Homo sapiens: one gene and its partners. The protein of the gene in region 3 purifies or fractionates together with the protein of the main gene of each other region. This does not show direct contact. Each region holds a gene or a part of one and is shown on either strand. Other genes may lie near its edges. The genes, in order: IFRD2, OR1M1 and E2F8.

The links.
Region 1: the proteins of E2F8 (region 3) and IFRD2 purify together in Homo sapiens (affinity purification with mass spectrometry; one large-scale study listed by BioGRID and IntAct). This does not show direct contact.
Region 2: the proteins of E2F8 (region 3) and OR1M1 purify together in Homo sapiens (affinity purification with mass spectrometry; one large-scale study listed by BioGRID and IntAct). This does not show direct contact.

The regions. Positions count from the first base shown.
Region 1 is NC_000003.12:50,289,609-50,293,747, reverse strand, and holds the start of IFRD2 (interferon-related developmental regulator 2), read left to right. Parts: upstream 1-1,318; 5' UTR 1,319-1,473; coding exon 1,474-1,531; intron 1,532-3,068; coding exon 3,069-3,188; intron 3,189-3,275; coding exon 3,276-3,360; intron 3,361-3,453; coding exon 3,454-3,578; intron 3,579-3,661; coding exon 3,662-3,819; intron 3,820-3,985; coding exon 3,986-4,036; intron 4,037-4,119; coding exon 4,120-4,139. Other genes in the region: HYAL3 (hyaluronidase-3 isoform 1 precursor), read left to right, coding at 27-116, 233-502. UniProt on the Homo sapiens protein: Ribosome-binding protein that acts as an inhibitor of mRNA translation by promoting ribosome inactivation. Associates with the P- and E-sites of the ribosome and inserts a C-terminal helix into the mRNA exit channel to preclude translation.
Region 2 is NC_000019.10:9,085,677-9,089,952, reverse strand, and holds the start of OR1M1 (olfactory receptor 1M1), read right to left. Parts: upstream 2,893-4,276; 5' UTR 2,796-2,892; intron 1-2,795. UniProt on the Homo sapiens protein: Odorant receptor.
Region 3 is NC_000011.10:19,227,341-19,230,985, forward strand, and holds part of E2F8 (transcription factor E2F8), read right to left. Parts: intron 3,495-3,645; coding exon 3,291-3,494; intron 2,989-3,290; coding exon 2,901-2,988; intron 2,649-2,900; coding exon 2,114-2,648; intron 1-2,113. UniProt on the Homo sapiens protein: Atypical E2F transcription factor that participates in various processes such as angiogenesis and polyploidization of specialized cells.

The DNA of each region.
Region 1 (4,139 bases), on a different chromosome or scaffold from region 3:
CTGGCTTAGCAGCTCTCTGCCTCCAGGATGACCTTGTGCAGTCCATTGGTGTGAGTGCAGCACTAGGGGCAGCCGGCGTGGTGCTCTGGGGGGACCTGAGCCTCTCCAGCTCTGAGGTGATCATTGCCCCTTTGAGCCTGCCATGTAGCACATGCTGGGGTCCCAGGGTGGGGGACGGCCATGTCAAGATTATAGAGCAGGCATATTGACACATATCTTCCCTTCTCCTCAGGAGGAGTGCTGGCATCTCCATGACTACCTGGTGGACACCTTGGGCCCCTATGTGATCAATGTGACCAGGGCAGCGATGGCCTGCAGTCACCAGCGGTGCCATGGCCACGGGCGCTGTGCCCGGCGAGATCCAGGACAGATGGAAGCCTTTCTACACCTGTGGCCAGACGGCAGCCTTGGAGATTGGAAGTCCTTCAGCTGCCACTGTTACTGGGGCTGGGCTGGCCCCACCTGCCAGGAGCCCAGGCCTGGGCCTAAAGAAGCAGTATAAAGCCAGGGCCCCTGCCACTGCCTCTTCTTTTCCCTGCTGCCACTTTTCCAGTCCTGGAACTACTCTGTCCCACTCTTGCTCTATTCAGTTTACAGTCAACCCTCCCAAGCACACACCCCGCTTCCCTTGGAATCCCTGAGGGGTAGAAGGGGCCAGAAAAAACGCTTATAAAACCAGAGGCCCTCTGAGATCATGTGAGTCCTCCATGGCAAGGAAGCAGTTCCAGGGAGAGTCAGGTTCCAGCTAGTTAGGGCTGCCAGCCTAGGGCTTTGTGCCTACACCTCACTAAGCCCATGGAGAGGTCACAGATGGGCCGTGCACGGGCAGATGGGCCCCAAAAAATCTTGGCGAAGGTCGGTAAAGTGCTAAGCTGTTGTCTGCACTCTTTCATCATAAAGTCACTTTTTTCCACTGCCTGAGGTTTGGCTGTTGCTCCTGTTATCCCAAGCTCTAAGCCCTTCCCATGGTCCCCAGACCCAGGCAGGGGTAGGTCTCGTCTGGAGTGTCCCGCTGCCAAGTGCCCTGAGAAGCCAGTCCTGCCTTGGTGCTCCACTGAGGGACGCTTCGGAGTTAACCACCGTGCACTTGTTCCCGACGCGGGGCTGGGGCGCGCGCAGGGCATTGTGGGTGCATAGTTCAGCCAGCGCGTCGTCGGCTGGTGGGCCCCAGGCGTGGACTACCATTCCCATGGTGCTCTACGCGCAGCTAGCCGCCGTCGCCTGCGCGCTCAGGCCTCTGGGATTAGTAGTTTTAGCCTCGTGGATGTGGGCCTGAATCGGATGGCCTGGAACTCGCCTTCCCGGCGACCTGTTTGGCAGGGCGGGGCGCCTCGCGAAGATGGTGGCGCGCGTGGCGTGTGGCTCCCGTCGTCTGGCCAAGTCTCAGCGCAGCGCACCGGCCGGCGTCTCGTTGGCCTGGAGCCCACACCCACCGGGTCCCTGACCCCGCGCCCCCCGCGCCCGGTTCCCGGCATGCCTCGCGCCCGTAAGGGCAACACGCTCCGGAAGGGTGGTCAGCGCCGTGGAGGAGGTGAGTGGGGTGGGGGGCGCGGGACAGCTGTATGAGCGGCGGGCGGGGGTCCTGCTGGATCCCCTTGGTTGTTCTCGAGGGCCCTGGGTGGGGAACCCCCTCGGCCAGCCCCACGCAGCTTCCCATAACTCTACCGAGGCTGGCACGTGCCCCAGCAGTCATTGGCCACGTGCGTGCCCAACTTGAGCTCGCTGCCCACTGCCTGTTGGGAGTCCGCGCTCCCAGCGGTGACCCGGCCAGCCCCTCCGGGCCTCAGTTGCCTGCTGGGTGGACAAACTCACCGGACAGGGCAGGAAGCCAGTCCTCTTGCCAAACCCTGATCCTTTCCTGGACTGGTCAAGGAAGTTGGCGGGAGTCCTGGCCTGCTCCGGTGAAGAGAGGGAGGGGGCTCTGTTGGGAAGCTACCTGGTTAGGGCCTTGGCAGCTTGGCAGGCCTGACTCCACAAGGTAGCTGAGTATCCTGGAGCCTGAGGCAGTCTTGGGACTCGCTTATCAGCTTAGACCAGGAGCCTATCTTAATGCGTTAAACACATATGTTTACTCTGCTGGGATGGGGTGCCTACCACGCACAAATTTATTTATTTTTATTCTTGAGGGGGAAGGGAGGAGGGCCGGGCACAGGAAGGAGGAAAATACCTAGGCACAACTTTAAACTGGTCACCACCATGGTGGGTTTTGGGTGGGGGACATCTAATAGGGTGTGGAACATGTTCACTGAGTGGTGTCAGCCCCAGACTTAGGACTCAGGGAGGCCTGGGGGGAAGTGCTTCTGGGTGAGTCCTGAGAGGATGGAGAAGAGAGCAAGTTGTACAAAGACCTGGCAGCTGGAGGGACCCCAGCGCAGTGGAGTGAATGAGGGAAGGCTGGGCTGCTCCGGCAGGTAGAATAGTAAGATAAAATGGGAGCAGGCTGGGCGTGGTGGCTCACACCTGTAATCCCAGCACTTTGGGAGGCCAAGGCAGGCAGATCACCTGAGGCCAGGAGTTCGAGACCAGCCTGACCAACATGGAGAAACCCTATCTACTAAAAATACAAAATTAGCTGGGTGTGGTGTCGTATGCCTGTAATCCCAGCTACTCGGGAGGCTGAGGCAGGAGAATCACTGGAACCCGGGAGGCAGAGGTCGCAGTGAGCCGAGATGGCGTCATTGCACTCCAGCCTGGGCAACAAGAGCAAAACTCTGTCTCAAAAAAAAAAAAAAAAAAAAAAGGTGGCGGGGAGCAGAGGCCAGTGCGCAGGCTGGACTTTGTCCTGCAGATGAGGGGTGTGAGTAGTTCTTAGAAGTAGGGCCAGCCTGGTGATCACACCCTGTCCAAAACTCTGCCACAGCAGCCAACCTTGCCAATGTCAGCCCTTGGCCCTGGACAGACCCCACACACAGGAGTGCACCAGCCCTACTGAACTGACCCTTGGCTTTGGTTTTTCATCTCTGAGAGGGACACCATTCTATCTTTTGGGATTATGAGGTCGAGTGAGGTACCCCCAGCCATCCCTCATCAGTAGAGGCAAGTTGAGTGTCCTATTCCACCTTCTCCAGGTGCCCGGAGCAGTGCCCAAGCTGACTCGGGTTCCAGTGACGATGAGGCAGCCAGTGAGGCCCGCAGCACCGCCAGTGAATGCCCCAGCCTTCTCAGCACCACTGCAGAGGACAGCCTTGGTGAGAGCGGGTGGAAGTTTGACAGGGGCTTGGTGAGGGCTCCATGGGCTGAGGACAAGAAGCGGTGCTGACCAGGTGGCCTTGCAGGGGGGGATGTCGTGGATGAGCAGGGCCAGCAGGAAGACCTTGAGGAAAAGCTGAAGGAGTATGTGGACTGTCTCACAGACAAGAGGTACCCCTGGCTGCCAGCCAACTCCTACACCCAGCTCCAAGTGTGATCAAGGGAGGGCTGGCCCATATGACCCCCCTTCTCGACCTCCCCCAGTGCCAAGACCCGGCAGGGTGCTCTTGAGAGCCTGCGCCTGGCCCTAGCGTCCCGCCTACTCCCCGACTTCTTGCTGGAGCGCCGCCTCACGCTAGCCGATGCCCTGGAAAAGTGCCTCAAGAAAGGTTGGACCTGGGGGTGTGTGGGAGACTTAAACTGGGCAGACACTGGCCCTTGCTGCATGGGCTGACTGGAAAGCATCCCACAGGGAAGGGCGAGGAACAAGCCCTGGCTGCTGCTGTGCTAGGCCTGCTCTGCGTGCAGCTGGGCCCTGGACCTAAGGGTGAGGAGCTGTTTCACAGCCTGCAGCCTCTGCTGGTCTCTGTGCTCAGTGACAGCACAGCTAGCCCTGCTGCCCGGCTCCACGTGAGTGTGCCTGTGCCCCATGAAACCCTTCCTGCACCTTATCCCTCAGCAGAGTGGTGGGTTCCCCCTATCTTCAGCCTCCTTTACTCTGAGGGGAGTGAGCTCCAGGGCTGGGAACCCAGGTTCACCCGCTGACCGTGGCATTGCATTGCCCTTCTCCCAACAGTGTGCTTCTGCCCTTGGCCTGGGCTGCTACGTGGCTGCCGCTGACATCCAGGTGAGGGGTCTTTGGGCACAGGTGGTAGAGCATCTAGGGCTGTAACTCTGCCTCTGAGCTCCCCTGCCTCTCTGTGCTCCTAGGACCTGGTCTCTTGCCTTGC
Region 2 (4,276 bases), on a different chromosome or scaffold from region 3:
TTCTAAATCTAGAGCATGTACTCTTAATCTCTGTAATTCATGAAGCACGCATGGATTCATGAATTCACAGTTTAGTGAGGGAGATGAACTCCAGGCAGCATTTATCAGATTATGAGGAGCTTGGATTAATAGAGAATCACACCCCACACACAGCACCCCTGAGGATTGTAAGAGCACTCCGAAAACTGTTGAGGCAGCCAGGGATTTTTGGAAAATGTGTTGGCTTTAGGCAGGGCACAGTGGCTCACACCTGTAATCCCAGCACTTTGGGAGGCTGAGACAGGCGGATTGCCTGAGGTCAGGAGTTCGAGACCAGCCTGGCCGACATGGTGAAACCCCGTCTCTACTAAAAATACAAAAAATTATCCGGGCGTAGTGGTGGGCCCCTGTAATCCTGGCTACTTGGGAGGCTGAGGCAGGAGAATCGCTTGAACCCAGGAGGCGGAGGTTGCAGTGAGCTGAGATTGTGCCATTGCACTCCAGCCGGGGTGACAAGAGCGAAACTCTGTCTCAAAAAAAAAAAAAAAAAAATGTGGTAGAAATACACAATGGAAAACTATTCAGCCATAAAAATGAAGGAGATCTTGTCATTTACAGCAACATGGAAAGAATTGGAGCATATTATAAATGAAATAAGCCAGGAACAGAAAGTTAAACACTGCATGTTCTCACTCACATGTGAAAGCTAAAAGAAAAAAAATGATTTCATAGAAGTAAAAAGAACAGAGGATACTAGAGTCTGGGAAGGGTAGAGGGAGGGGGCAGATAGGAAGAGATTTGTTACAGCATACAGAACTACAGGCAAATTGGAAGAATAAGTTCTAGTGTTCTATATCCCTGTAGGATGAATACAGTTAACAATAATATGCTATATAGCTAAACAGCTAGAAGGAGGATATTGAGTGTTCCCAACACAGAGAAATGATAAATGTTTGTGATAATAGATGTGCTAATTACCCAGATCTGATCACTATACATTACATATATGGAAACATTACTATGTACCTCATAAATATATACAATTAAAACATTTTAAAAGGAGTCAGAGTATTTTTTTTTTTTTTGAGACAGAGTTTCGCTCTTGTTGCTCAGGCAGGAGTGCAATGGTGCAATCTCAGCTCACTGCAACCTCTGCCTCCCGGATATAAATGGTTCTCTGGCCTCAGCCTCCCGAGTAGCTGGGATTACAGGCACCCACCACCACACCTGGCTAATTTTTTTGTATGTTTACTAGAGATGGGGTTTCACCATGCTGGCCAGGCTGGTCTTGAACTCCTGACCACAGGTGATCCGCCCGCCTCGGCCTTCCAAAGTGCTGGGATTACAGGTGTGAGCCACCGTGCCTGGCCGAGTCAGAGTATTTTTCCATCTCAAGGAAGCCAGTGAATGCTCTGTGATTAAACTACTAATGGAATCAAGGAACTGATCTCAGACATCCTCCTGCCCTGACACCTAAGCTTTCACTGAATTACTCTGTCACTCCTCATTCTTCCACAGCTCTTGGGAAAAATTTAAGTATCAGGAACCCGAAGATTCATCCCTTAAGCTTCTTGATGAGCCTCTCTCCAAGGAAGCACCAGTCCTATCCTATCTGGACCTCTGCACTCTGTGTCTAAGATCTCTCAGCCTGGAATACTTGGGAATCTCCAAGGGCTTCCAAGACCCAACATGGGGAATAACACAAACTTCTGCCTACAGAAGTACTGAGGAGGAAGCCATCTGTTCCTTCAGGCACTCAAGTGGGCTTGGAAAAGAAAGTCCAGGCTGGGCGCAGTGGCTCATGCTTGTAATACCAGAACTTTGGGAGGCTGAGGCGGGTGGATCACCTGAGGTCAAGAGTTGGAGACCAGCGTGGCCATTATGGTGAAACCCCAGCTCCACTAAAAATACAAAAATTAGCTGGGTGTGGTGGCGGGCATCTGTAATTCCAGCTACTTGGGAGGCTGAGGCAGGAGAATCTCTTGAACCTGAGAGATGGAGGTTGCAGTGAGCCAAGATCATGCCACTGCACTGCAGCCTGGGTGACAGAGTAAGACTCCATTTCAAAAAAAAAGTCTAGTTACGAAGAAAAACAGTGCTACAAATAATCATGGTTTTTAGGTAAAGGACTGGTAGCATCACAACTAAACCAGGCTGAGCTAGTTTGGTAAGAAGAGCCATTGGATTCTGGGCTGACAAGTGGGTGCTGATTGACCAGACAGAATCTTCCAGTGTCGGCCGAGCACAGTGAATTCCAGTACTTTCGGAGGCTGAGGCGGGTGATCACCTGAGGTCAGGTGTTCGAGATCAGCCTGACCAACATGGTGAAACCTTGTCTCTACTAAAAATACAAAATTCACAAGGCATGGTGGTGTATGCCTGTAATCCCAGCTACTCGGGAGGCTGAGGTAGGAGAATTGCTCGAACCTGGGAGTCAGAGGTTGCAGTGAGCCAAGATCGTGCCATTGCACTCCAGCCTGGGCAACAAGAGCAAAACTCCATCTCGGTGGGGGAAAAATGTTCAAAAAATCAGCTGGGTGTGGTGGCACATGCCTGTAGTTCCAGCTACTCTAGAGGCTGAGGCAGGAGGATTGCTTAAGCCCAGGAGGTAGAAGCTGCAGTGAGCTGTGATTGTGCCACTGCACTCCAGCCTGAATAACAGAGCAAGGTTCTGTCTCTAAAATAAATAAATCAGTAAATCAATAAATAATAAAAAAGAATCTTCCAGTGTATCTGAGATCATTGAGCTTGGCTTCATTAATTTTACCAACATTCGTTCAGTCTCTCTCTCTCTCTCTCTCTCTCAGCTCACTCACTGGGCTATCTTTCCTCTTCTTGACACCATCACCCAGGCATGAGTTAAACTGGCTCAGTGTCCTCCCAGCAGGTACTAGATGATGAAGTTAGATGTTTGGGCCAGCAGATGCTACATAGAAATACTGGGAAGTTGTCCTCCTGGTCCAAAGAAGAAAAGCTAGGGTGGGGGATAAGTTGTAGGAACCGAGGGAATATTTACAATTTCTGGGCCAATAAGAAGTCAATTCCCCAAGCTCCTTGTTACACAAATTGTCCAATTTCATCTCTAGTCCCTGAATAGTTCTGTTTCCTATGGGGGCTGGGACGTGGCAGTAAGAAGCATTTTATGTCTTCATGAGGCAACTTAGGGGTAAGTTGCATGATTCCTAACTTTCTCTGCACCCTCTCTTCCAGGAACAAACTCTCCCTGTCTTCTAAACTCAGTCTTTCCAATGCCCAGGGCTTCTTATATCAGAAGGTTCCATTCTTATTGGAAGCCAATGTTCCTCATCACTTAAAGAATTAAGAAATGGCCGGGTGTGATGGCTCACGCCTGTAATCCCAGCACTTTGGGAGGCTGAGGCGGGTGGATCATGAGGTCAAGAGATTGAGACAATCCTGGCCAACATGGTGAAACACTGTCTCTACTAAAAATACAAAAATTAGTTGGCATGGTGGTGCACACCTGTAGTCCCAGCTACTCAGGAGGCTGAGGCAGAAGAATCGCTTGAACCCAGGAGGCAGAGGTTGTGGTGAGCCGAGATTGCACCATTGTACTCCAGCCTGGGCAACAAGAGCGAAACTCCATCTCAAAAAAAAAAAAAAAAAAAAAAAGAAAAGAACTAAGAAACACTCCAAACATTTTCCCACGTCCACCCAGTGATCTGTCACCAAGACCCAGGGCTGCCTGCTTTCATCACTCAACCTCAACAGAACAACTCTCTATAAAGGGATCATGGCTTTCATTCAGTTCTGCAAAAGGAGAAACTAGAGCCTACCCTAATGGATGTACATGGAGAGAGTGGTTGGCTGACTAAGTCTGCAGCCAGATTCTCACTGAGTATTGGGACCATGGTGGCATTACTGGGAATTTTCAGGAATTTGGTTTTATAAGGTCATGCCCAGATTATTGGGTTGTGTCTACTCAGTAAACACTCATGAAACTGATGGATACATGAAGGCTCAGTTTTTCAAAGCCTTTAGCTATGTAAAGAGCAAAATACTAGGTTGAGCCATATGCAATTGTCAATATTCTACCATTTTTGATCAACAAAACTGGCATTTTTTTTTTTGGTATGCCTCAGCTTCATATAATGAAATCCTGTGTGCCCAATCACTCAGCTTCCACACCTACCAAGTCAAGCCTCTGTTGAATCTGTGTCCTACCTACTTTGACCTCTCTCTTCCCAGAGATAATTTCAGAGCAAATTCCATATGTATAATGATTTTGGTATGTCTTCAAAAAACAAAAAGCTCTTTTTGAAAGCATAACCACAATACC
Region 3 (3,645 bases):
TAGGTGCTTTATGAAGACCTGCGCTCTATTAGCTTTAGTTATATTCTCTCATGGTACAAATTATTCTGACTGCTGGTTTAACTCTTTCAAGTCTTCAGTAAAACCCACAATAATAGAATAATAATTTTTAAATTTCCAACAAACTATATTCATTATAGAATCTTTTAACCTATGCCAATTCCCTTTTTTATAAAATAATTAGAACTATTAAATTGCCGAATGAATCTGACATATTTGAACTTGAACTCTTCTAGCCTACAGTAGCCCTTCCACCCCTTCCTCCTATCATGTCATCTTCATTCCTATCATTCACTACCTGATATGTTTGTGTTTACTTGCATACTTATCTTCTTTCCACCCCTAGAAGTATAAATTCTCAGTAAAAATTTGTTGAATGAATTAACACATGACTCTCTCATTGTCTTTGTTTTGCTCAGGCCATACTAAAACGAAATGGTTAAAGTGGGCTGGGCATGACGGCAAATGCCTGTGATCTCAGCACTTTGGGAAGCCAAGGCAGGCAGACTGCTTGAGCTCAGGAGTTCGAGACCAGGCTGAGCAACATGGTGAAACCCCGTCTCCACAAAAAATAAAAAATTAGCCGGGCATGGCAGCACACCTGTAGTCTAAGTTACTTGGGAGACTGAGGTGGGAGGATCACTTAAGCCTTGGAGGTCGAGGCTGCAGTGAGCTAAAATCATGCCACTGCACTCCATTCTGGGTGACAGAGTAAGACCCTGTCTCAAAAGAAAAAAGAAATGGTTAGAGTTGCAGAGATATAAAAAAGAAGCAGGAGTATATGGAAAATCTATCCACTGAAAATCCTAATCCTGAATAACTATGTAAGCAACAGGAGACCATTATTAAATCATACCCATTGGCCAAAAGAAGTTATGGACCTTCCAGAATATTGAAACCTTATGATTTCCCACTTGGCATATACATTAAATACAAAAGGATACTATGTAAGATAATAGATGTTTTGAATGGTTACCATGAGGCCATCCTCAGGGAAGATTTGACAAACTCTAAGCTTCCTCTTTAATAACAACGTAACAGATAATACCTTTCAGCTTATAACACGTCTTAAAAGGATCAAACCCTTTTATGTGTATCATCATGGAATAAATTCACTTAACCCCACAAAAACTATCATATGCCCACAGGCAAGTACCCAAAAGCAATTGCCACCAAAGGCAGGTGCTGGGTTAGATTTGATCCAGAGCACAGTGCTTTATATCCAGTAGGTGATGAGGAAAAACTGGTGGAATAAATTCTTTACCGATGCGGAAAAATAAGACAGAGAGAAGTAAAATAGCTTGTATTAAGAGCAGGGGCAAAATGAGAGATTAACTTTTACTTGCACATTTAGTGGTATTTATCGGATGATACAGTAATGTCTCTCATATATAATTGTCCTAAGGGAGGAAAATGAGATACTGTATGTAAAAGTGACTAATATCTATTATGTCTGCTATATGTGGGTAGGCATCCAATAAATATTAATTCCCTCCGGAACTAATCTCCACTTAGGAAAAAAATTTGTCTAGCATGTCAAAATCTCTAGAAACCAATACATGAACTATATCTACAATTTGCCAAGATCAGTTTGATTTTTCTATTTACATGAAATAGAAATTTTGATTTAAATTTTAGGTAGAAAGTAAAAACGGGGAGCAATTTATCTTCTAGGCAACAGATGCCAGTTACATGACAACAAACAAACATTAGGTAATGACTCAGAAAGCAGGAGTTACAGGAACCCTATGCATCCACACGTTCATTTGGGGTTACGTCTGCTTGTAAATTATTTAAGACTTTCATGACAGCTGTTTGCATTCCAGTGTGTGATGGAGAAATGGACTTAAGGACAACCACCCATGGTACTTTAAAAAGACAGCAAATAATCCCTTCCTCCAAAGGTTAAAAATGTCCCTGCCTTCATCCCAGCCAGGGGATTAGCTGTTGAGGGCCTCACTTGGATTATGGGATGCTAAGGAACAGTTCCTTGTCTTCTGAGAGAATGCTCTTCGGTAAATTTCACAAGCCACCAATCTTCCTGTAATAGACTAGGGAATTCCTAAAGCTTTGTGCAGTTCAAGGCTGTACTTACTGCGGAGACATTTTCAAGTCCTTTTAGGTCCTCTTTAAATTTCTTTTTGGAACCACTGTCCTCGAGCATGCTTGCCCTCTTTGAGCCTCTTTCTCCAGCTGGCTCCCTGGTTCGGCTCTTTGCCCCTTGCCTCTCTGGTGCTGGCAGCAAGCTTCCAGGCCTGGTAGAGGCACTGGCCTTTGAGGTATCATTGGCTGCCTTCTCAGTGGTGGCATCTGTGGAGTCTTTTGAGCCAGTAGCTTTAGAAGAGTGGGTGGTGCACACCGTTGGGCTCAGGCCTTGGGGTGGCGTCACACTTTGGTGGGCTTGAGTGGGCTGCAGGTAGATGGCATAGGATGGGCCTGAAGGGGCCTGAGGTAGGATCAGGGGCACTGCTGATGACAAGGGGCTGGGGATCAGGGGAACCATTCCCAGGGGCTGGATGAGGGACGGTGCTGTCAGCTCCATCTCAGCATTCACTGGGGGGTCCAGAGGGGCTACTGGTTTGCAGGGTCCAGATCTTGCCAGCTGTACTTTCACTTTCTGTCTGGATTCACTGAAAGACAAGATTTAATACACGACATGATGGATATACATTTTTTCTGAACTGTTCTACCGCTTTAAGCCTCATATTGAAGCCACGCTTTTATGGAACATGCAGATAATTTCTGTAATGAGTGAGTATGAGATACAGAAAAGATTAGCTCTCCAGTTCAAGGCTAGGGCTTCTTCTCACATAAAATAAGTAATCCTAACAATGTAATGTAAAAGTAATTCATCCTGTTATTAAAGAGGATTGCCAACCTACCTTGATTGCTCTTCTAACTGCATTTTACAAATAGCTGCGAGCTGAGCCATTTTACTTGGGAAGGGTGCAGAATTCTGAGAACTCTCAGCTGGTAAAATAGAAAGGAAGAGAGCACCGGTCAAAGCTAAAGAACAAATGTTCACACAGATGAAACCTCACTGAAGTCAGAGGAACAGAAAGTGTGCACCTCCCCTCAAAGTTGCATAGCGATTAAACAATAAACCCCACAAATGACTTTTTAAATTTATACATTAGTTAGGCTTCAAGAGGGTTTGGGTATATAGATATTGAAATAATTCTCTGACAACTATTGCAAGGATCAAGTAAGCTGAAAAAATGAGATAAAAGGGAATTCTTCCTAGCAGATCCCTGACATTCCTGAAAACATACCTTTGTTGGTCTTGATAGGGCTACTGGGCGCAGAATTTATCTTTCTCCGATCACTTTCTATACTCTTTACCAATTTGATAAGAGATGGGTGTCGAGTAAAGTTTGGTTTCCCACGTGTGGAAAAGAGGTTTTTGGCACAGTTCTCTTTTGAAGACCGTCTCACCTCCAAATCAGAGGGAGTAAAATGAATGACTGGGCTGGAGCCTGAAACAGAAAACGTCTGTGTATTAAAACCTGGATGGCTCAGTTGGCTTTTGGGATATGAAATAAAACAATTTTAGGAATAAAAGTGGCAAGTTACAGAGCACCGACCATGTGCCTGTCACTGTTCTAAGGGCTTTACAGAGAAAGCCTT